Regions from separate parts of the Homo sapiens genome. Here region 2 is reported to be linked to region 1. Evidence: microRNA targets listed by miRTarBase, many of them from high-throughput screens and not tested one by one. Region 1 holds a microRNA gene; the other region holds the end of a gene's coding sequence.

Region 1 (4,393 bases):
AGACTGGGGTGAAGGTGAAGCTAGACAAGCCCAGGACCACAATGACATTTGAATCTACATTGGGATTCCCTTGGTTAGCTAAATGCAAGAAAAAAAATTCAAAATTCAGATCATAGCTCCTACTCTCAAACACAGTTTATTTATAGGTAGCTCTAATGTATTCAGAAGGAGCAAAAAAGGATACAATGCTTTAGGTATTATTCTGGAATGTTAATTTTTTTTTAAGTGACACACATCAAACCAATGGGGTAGAGACAATACAACCACCTCAGGATCCAGCTGTCTCCTCTCTGAGCATTAGCTCATCTACCCCCTCTTCCTGCCACGCTCCTGAGGCAAAGGTTTTGTAATCAAAAACCACTACCTTCAAACTATCAAGCCAAAGGCGAACAAGGTTCCTTTCCTCCTGCCTTCCCTCCCTTCCCACCATGAACCTGTCAGTCTCTTCTAGCTATAAAATGTTCATGCCCCTGTTTAAAATAATAATAATAGTAATAAACTTCCAAGAAAATGAAAGCTGGAGCAAAATGCCCTGCCAGTTAACCATCTTGGGAAAAGGTCAAAATAACCTTCCCTGGAACGCCCTTATCTTCTGGCCACAGAAAGCTGCCAAAGCCTTCCCTGCTATGTACAGAAGTAAAATCCCCTCACTGGCATCCTTCTTACACTGTCCATTTCCTCCTCTCTTCTCTGCAGGCTCTGTCTTTCCTGGCCACAGGCTGGAAAATGCACTGGTGGTAGCATGATACAACATTTATGTAAATTTCCATAGTTAAATGTTTCCTTTACCTAAAACTTACAAAATACCTTTTGAAAAATTAAAACTTTTAAGTCATAAAAATGACGTAAATCCCCACTACATAATCCTCTCATTTATATTCTTTCCCGTGTCTCAAAATTCATCAGATCTCAAGCATTTGGCAAAGCTGCAGACATACAAACCAAGCATGAAACATGAGCTATGCCTTCATCTACCTGAGCTGTCGGCAGACATTGTTACTTTGACAGAATATTTAAGAAAAGAAGTCACCAAAAACTTACCACAGCCTAATACTGGCAATGGGGGGTCTTAAAGATCAGTTCTCATAGAACCACTAACAAGCACGGGTGCAGTGTGGCAAAGGCAGCCACTGTGTTTCACAAGGTCATCAGCCACAGCTGTCAGAATAAGCACGAAGGCAACTCATACCACGGCGCAAATGAAGAATACATTCTAGACTAACAGTACGTGAGCCAGGGCCACAGAGGCTCCAGGGCCCAAGTGTGGAGAAATAATAAATCACTATTTACGCAATGAACTACATGTGGCCAAACTTGTGCTCTTTGTCCCTGCCTTCAAGAAGGGGCCAACCATCCCCAGTAACATGGACTCACCGATAGGCCACCTTGAGTCTTCCTAAGTGACAAGCATTTATTCCAAAGAACAAGGAGCAGCACCAAGACAAATGAACAAACAAGAGCTCAAGTTTGTGACTTGTTTTCCAGACTGCTCAATTCTCATTAAACATGCAAGCAGTAGTGCTGTGTTCGGCTGTAAGTGACGCTCTGCATATGCCTGGCTAGCTCCTCCACACGCATTTGTGGAGGAGCTAGCCAGGCATATGCGGAGACTTGCCATGTAACCTGCAGCAAGTTACTCACCTCCACCTCCCTATGTTCTTCTGCACTTCCTCAAAGTGAAAGTTCATTTATTAGGTAAGGAACAAGAATTGAATCCAAGTTTGCATTCACTGTGCCAGGCATTTAAAGCTGCCACTCACATGTTGTGGAATGAACTGTATGGTCTCTTACAGCCATAAAACATCCAAGTCTCTAGGATTATGCTGTTAGGTTCCAAAGAATATAGTGTACAGTAGTCATGAGAAATATCATGACTTTCTGAGATTATACACACATATGCATATATATGTATGTGTGTATATATATCTCTCTCTTCTCATATAGACATAAATCGGTATCAGAAGGTATATACGATACACAGTGTGTGCATATTTATGTATCTATCCCCTTCCTTTATCTACCTCTAAGCTAGGAGAGGCATCAGGCTGAAGAAGTCAAAGTATAACTACTAAAATGAGATAATATAGAAGAGAAAATATTTTTAAAGAATTAAAAATATAAAGCTATATAAATGCAAAAATATAACTAATGCTTAAGAATTATTAGACTAGTTGGCGGAAAAATTTCTTCTGAAGAGGGAGTAGAGTAATGCTATTGTTATTTTAAACCTCACCAAAAAAAAGTGAACTATACATAATCTCCTATACCAAGCAAAACACTGCAAAAGCTACAGGTGACCAGAATTATATAACGCCTTTTGAGAATGTACAAGCGTTTTCAGGTACATACATTTCATTAATTTCTAGAATGTTTTTAAGAGTTGCCAGACCAAGGCCCTGAAATTTTCAAATATAAAAATCCTATCTTGGAAGGCGGGGACTCTTACAGAGCTGGGGCCTAGTTTAGAATAGCATTATCTTAGATAAGAGCCCAGCCTCCCTCCAAGCCGTAACAGGAAATGCTTCATAAAGAAGTCTGCATCCTTAGTCCCAGACCTCCGCAGTTAGTATTTGGATTCTAGCCTTTATAAATGGACTTCTCAAAGGTGCATCCAACATCTGAGTATTCTGGCAGCAGTAACGTAAAAGGACTGACAAGGAAGGCTGCAGAGAGGTGTCAGACACGAAAACGCTTGAAGACATAAAAATGAGGAGTCTTAAGCACCTAAGAACTGCAATTCCCTATCTGAGCAGCAGGTAAGATTCTGGGGTATCAGATCACTGTATCCAGTTCCAGGTTCTCCACTGGCAGAGAGTGCAGTCTCTGACTTTGTCCTCTGAATGCAGGAACTTTATCGAAGCTAAAGTACCTGCTTTGGACACTTCTGGCACAGGTGTTGGGGTGACAGGAAACATCATCAATTCAGCTGCCAACTACAGCGGAAAAAAACTAGGGAATAATCCTCAGAAAATGGCACTGTTAATGGGTACAAAAAACACAGATAATAGGAATAAGCTCTAGTGTTCAGTAGCACAATAGCGTGACTATAGTTAACAATAATTTATTGTATATTTCAAAATAACTACAAAAATGAATTTGGAACAAAGAAATAAATGATAAATGTTTCAGGTAATGGATATTCCAATTACCCTGATTTGATCACTACACTGTATGCTTGAATCAAAATATCACGTCTCCTATAAATATGTACAACTATTATGTGCCCATAAAAACTAAAAACAAAAAAGAAAGAAAATGACACTTAAATATTAAAATACCTTTTATCCCCGAATCCCACATTTCAGTTTGGTCTTCTGAAAAAATGACTTATCAGTTTCTCAGCTAAAGAAATGATATCGACAGTGTACTACCTAAATTATACCTTATATTCTTTCCTTTCCAAAATATAAATTCGCCAGTGAACAATCTGATCCTAAAGAGGGCGGAAGATTAACCCGCCTAGCATGAGAGCACAGCTTAAAATAAATGCTGTTAAGTAGTCCTCAGGTAGAACAACTTTCCCAGCCAGCAGGCCCAGGAACTCAAGGTCTAGCTTAAGTTGGGTATTTGTATTCAAGAAGGAATTACAATCATGGAGTCAAATGACTTTTTCAATGCAGACGACAAAACGTAATCAAGTCAGTAGACACTTTACTAAGAGGAGGCTAAGCAAATGGTTATTTGCTTAAGGTTAGGGAACTCTTAAGCCCAAGGACCTGAGAGCCTGGGAAGGCGGGGGGGAATGGGTTTGACTCCCAAAGTTTGCGTTTCCGCAAGTGGTTAACACAACTCTAGGAACAAACCCTAAGACCAATACTCCCCACAATCTCATTTCCCCCCATTCTGCATCACCCATCACCCCAAAATAAAAACAGCTACTACAGCACAGCCCTTTGGTTACGCAGGAGGCTGGGACCTGATCCTGGCATAAAAAGCGGATGCGGGCGACCGAGGACCACACACGTGGGGGCGTTCGCGGGCGCTGAAACCAGCTACGAGGCCCACGCCCCCGCCGGGGACAGCTGGTGACCATCACCTTTGGACAGGGGCATTCCCCAGCCGGCCCCGGAACTTGCGAAAGACGCGCAGCCCTTCGGACTCAGCCACTCGCGCAGGGCCCGGGTCCCGGGCGGCTCGGGGCACCTGAGGAGCGCGGCGAAGGCGGGGACAGGGACGGGGACGGGGACGACTCGGGAACAGGGAAGCGCGCGGCCTCCCGCAGGACCCACCTGGATCTGCAACGGCACGAGGCGCACCTTGCAGCGCTCGCTCACCGCGAAGCCCTTGGGCAAGTCCACGTACTGGCCCCACTCCTCGGCGAACAGCTGCACCACGAATTTGCGGTGCATGTCGATCTGGTCGCCGTACAGGCTGAGGAACTTCTGGATGAGCA
Region 2 (4,393 bases), not on the chromosome of region 1:
TCCTACTTTGGCTTTTGACTGGGAGAAAGATGCTCTCTTTTCTGCTGGCGGTCATCTTGGGACACCCACCCCACCCCAGTCTCAAGGGAGCTATCAACCAGGTCTTTAGGAATAATTGGGATCTGCTGGATCAGCCCTCACCTGAAACTGGTTGAGCTTTAAGATGGCCTTCATCTGGTCGGGTGCGGTGGCTCATGCCTGTAATCCCAGCACTTTGGGAGGCCGAGGTGGGCGGATCATGAGGTCAGGAGATCAAGACTATCCTAACACGGTGAAACCCCATCTCTACTAAAAATACAAAAAATTAGCCGGGCATGGTGGCAGGTGCCTGTAGTCCCAGCTACTCGGGAGGCTGAGGCAGGAGAATGGTGTGAACCCGGGAGGCTGAGCTTGCAGTGAGCCGAGATCACACCACTGCACTCCAGCCTGAGCGACAGAGACTCCGTCTCAAAAAAAAAAAAAAAAAAAAAAAAAGATGACCTTCATCTTAAGAGGGCCGTTTTTCCTACTTCATTATTTTTCTTCCATCCATGGGACTCTGATATGTTTTTCCTCCTTTAGAGGGCTGTTGTGTAAACAGGCAGTGCATTTAACCACAGAAAATGGTGCCTGGCATACAGTAGGTGCTCAATAAATGCTCACTAGTACTGTGTCTCCCAGGAGACAGCTTTGAGAGCACCTGCTGATTCAAACCCACTCCTTTGATGCAACACCAAACAGGCATACAACAGCCCAACAGCTGTCACCTGTGGGACTGTCCAGTCCCAAATGAAACAAGACAGCAGGTGTGTGAAGGCAAGAGATGGGAGACACCCACCCTCGGGAGAAGAGCCCTCCAACCCAATGCACCATGGAAGCAGCATGCGGTGCCCCACAGCAGGGCCTCTCCCCACTGCCACGTGAGGCGGGCGCACAGGGATTAACCGGACGTTCATATCGACAGCTCAATCCTTATCCCCAAGGGGGCCTGAAACCTGCCTGGCACATGGCAGGGGCTCAGCAAAATCCCATGGACCCAGCTAACGGGGTGGTGCTTTCTGGTGGGGGTTTGACTGTTCTGATATGGAGAAAACCAGAATTTTAGAATGGAACAAGTTTACACAAGGAGGTGAGATGAGATGGCAGATAAAGGAAAACAAAAAAGGGCCAGGCGTGGTGGCTCACACCTATAATCCCAGCACTTTAGGAGGCCGAGGCGAGTGGATCACAAGGTCAGGAGTTTGAGACCAGCATGGCCAATATGGTGAAACCCCGTCTCTGCTAAAAATACACAATTAGCCAGGCATGGTGGTGTATGCCTGTAGTCCCAGATGCTCAGGAGGCTGAGGCAGGAGAATCACTTGAACCCGGGAGGCAGCGGTTGCAGTGAGCCGAGATGGCGTCACTGCACTCCAGCCTGGGTGACAGAGCAAGACTCCATCTCAAAAAAAAAAAAAAAAAAAATGTAGAGACAGAGGTCTTACTATGTTGCCCAGGCTTCCCAAGGTGCTGAGATTACAGATGTGAGCCACCGTACCCAGCCTATTTTTTATTTTTGTAAAGACAGGCTCTCACTATGTTGCCCAGGCTTTTTTTCAAAGAGCAACATACTGTTTTTCAAATGAAATTTTACACAAAGCCCCAGTATGTAACATAGAGGCCAGGTGCAGTGGTTCATGCTTGTAATTCCAGCACTTTGGGAGGCTGAGGTGGGAGGATCGCTTGAGTTCAGGAGTTTGAGACCAGCCTGGCCAACATGGCAAAACCTGCCTCTACAGAAAATACAAAAATTAGCTGGGCATAGTGGCAGGTGCCTGTAATCTCAGCTACTCAGGAGGCTGAAGCAGAATTGTTTGAACCCAGGAGGCAGAGGTTGCAGTGAGCTGAGATCGCGCCATTGCACTCCAGCCTGGGGGACAGGGTGAGACTCTGTCTCAAAAAAAAAAAAAAAGCCCCAGTATGTAACACAGAAACCCCTCTGGCTAGGGGAGGTGGCCCTAGGGCTCTCTGTTCACTCACACCAATGCCATGGACTGACTCACCCACCTCCGACTTCCCCAGTTAACCCACGCCAAGGACGCATCAGGCAGGCCATTCTCTTTGAGTATCTTTTTAATGACTTAAACACCAGCACGGAGACTCGCCATGTAAACGGCCTCATTTCTGTGCTCTGTGCTTTGGGAGGGACAGGGACACCATTTCCCACCTCGGCTGAGTTAAAACCTGTCTTGTAAATTAATAAATAATTTCCTAACACGGCAAAAAAAAAAAAAAATCCAAACGAGACCTAGTTTCCATCCAGGGACAGGATATTTCTGGACACCCCCGGTCACTGCTCCTCCTAAGGGCCTGGCCGTGGCTACTGCAGGGAGGATGCAGTGAGAATGGCTTCCCTGCTGCTGTTTGCTGCTGTCTACGCTGGCCAAGAACCTGCTCCCGTCTGCCTGGGCTGATGGAGTCTCGCTCTTGACAAAAATCTTGCTGGGGCAGGTCCTCTGGCAGCCCCAGCACCTTACCCTGAGTCACGGGAACCTGAGACTTTGTCCAAACCTCGGCTGGAAGGCTGGTCTTGGCACTCGACGTCTTAGCTAGTGGATTTATCGCATTAAGACTGTACTTGGGCCTTTTTCATGATGACTTGGGTCTCAATCCTTGGAGCAGCTGAAAGAACAGCTCGGGCCACCTGTGGATGCACCCACAATGAAATCAGAGGCCACTGCAAGGCAGAGTGGCCTGCAGTTTTAACTCGGGCACTATGGCAATGCAGACCCAAACCAATTGTGCCAGTTCTTTGCTGGGTGGCAAAGTGTTTTCAGGCTTTGTGGTCACTCCTGATTTCTGTTTGGAAGCACAGTTCTCTCTCTAAGGAGAATGGAAACTTGGAAAGGCCTGTAAAATCGGAAAGCCTGTAAAAGGCCGTAGAGTGGAGATGTATAAAAATGTACGGTCACCCATGTTTTAGGGGTTGACACCGTGGACTTTTATCTCGCTCACCAAATTCCTCACACATACAGCTCACTCCCTGTGCCCTCGGCCATCTCAGGCACCACAAAATCCTCACTGCTTGAAATTCACTTATGGAGTCCAACAAACAACTTTCTTAAAAAAAAAAAAAAAGGCAGTAAAATCTCAGAATTTCTGTGCAACGCTTGCAACCTGCCCACTTATTAAATAAACAGAACACCAAACCAACCGAAAGCTATGCAAGTGGCAGGCTGCCCTGGGCAGAGCCCTGCCTGTCTGCCAGGGACTACGGTGGCACGGGAGCAGGGCGCGATCATGCTGGAAGAAATGAGAGGTGGTCTCATTCCCTGAATCTCAAACTCTCATCTCAGGAGCCCCCAGTCCTAACACTGTATTCAGCGGCTGGAGTTATCTGGCCAGGTAAAGGGACGAGGGAAGGCAGACAGTCCTCAACTTCTTCCTGTGTTTCTAGCAGGGAAGGAACGCAATGGCTTCAGTCCCTCCGCCTCTAGGTAACAAGGCAAAGGCCTCCCTAACCCAGGCAGACAGGATGTGGGGAAGGTCTTGTGTCTTTTCCTAACTCAGAATGAGTGAGCGGGCTCCCGGAGAAAGACTGTCCTCTTAGCACATGACCCCGCAGGCTTCTAGCACCAAAGGCTCGCTAACACCTCCGACCCTGTCTGCAGGTAGAGGGGATGGGAGGCAGAACCCTTCTCCTGATTGGTGCCTGAAGGAGGCAAGAACGAGCATCTGCTATGCCGCAGCCGGATTTCCCCCATCTCAGCAGGAGAGGGGAGAGGTGAGGGTGCAGGCGTTCTGGGCAGGTCAGTGCAGTTCGATGAACGCCTCCAGATCTTCCGGGATGAAGCCCTTGTAAGGGATCTTGTTCTTATCCAGGGCCCGGGCCGCAAGGCACTGCAGGGTCACGTAGTTGAAGGGCTGCATGGTACCCCTGGCCAGCAGCTTCTCGTCCAGCAGCTCGTAGGCCGTCTTCTTGAAGGCATTGGTGGCGTCCATGTGGGCCCCTGCTTCGATCAGGGCATTCATGATGGCCGGGCAGTTGTTCTGGGCTGCTATGTGTAGCGGGGTGTTGTTGTCAAAATCCCTGCTGTCCGGGTCGGCCCCGCAGTCGAGCAGCACTTTGACCACGTGCAGGGAGGGGAATCTGCCCACGGGATAGCGGCCCACGTTTGTGGTGTCCTTGTCCACAGCCATGTGCAGAGGGGTGAAGCCGTTCTTGCCCCTGGGCGCGCACTTGAGCAGGCGGTAGACGGTCTGGTGCTTCAGGTGCTCCTGGCTGGGGGTGCACTCCACTTTCTCCAGCAGGTAGAGCAGGTGGAGGATGATGGCCAGCGCCTTGGTGAACTGGGCTGAGTCTCCGGGCTCCCTGGGCAGCTGCAGGGCCCGTTCCACTTCCCGGACCCCTTTGGTGAGAACCCCCATGAGGTCT

Evidence for each region. Region 1 holds the annotated microRNA hsa-miR-4633-3p (AGGAGCUAGCCAGGCAUAUGCA, at 1,547-1,568, opposite strand). A microRNA usually pairs through its seed, bases 2 to 8, with sites in the 3' UTR of a target mRNA and lowers its output. Matches are read on the target gene's strand: a 7mer-m8 pairs with bases 2 to 8, a 7mer-A1 pairs with bases 2 to 7 and ends in A, and an 8mer does both.
Region 2: the mRNA of FEM1A is a reported target of hsa-miR-4633-3p. Seed matches in the 3' UTR shown: 7mer-m8 at 87-93.

Annotation. Positions count from the first base shown.
Region 1 is chr5:129,094,912-129,099,304 of GRCh38, reverse strand. It overlaps MIR4633 (microRNA 4633), which reads right to left and starts at 1,617; the gene lies at 1,539-1,617. ISOC1 (isochorismatase domain containing 1) reads right to left here. Exons shown (of 5, transcript NM_016048.2): 1 at 4,230-4,393. It overlaps LOC124901060 (a long non-coding RNA gene), which reads left to right and starts at 2,526. Exons shown (of 2, transcript XR_007058926.1): 1 at 2,526-2,756; 2 at 3,906-4,393. RefSeq lists a silencer at 4,159-4,393.
Region 2 is chr19:4,793,240-4,797,632 of GRCh38, reverse strand. It overlaps FEM1A (fem-1 homolog A), which reads right to left. Exons shown (of 1, transcript NM_018708.3): 1 at 1-4,393. The coding sequence ends at 3,769. Among named protein-coding and RNA genes, the nearest start is that of FEM1A, 3.7 kb to the right of the region's middle. RefSeq lists an enhancer at 4,275-4,393.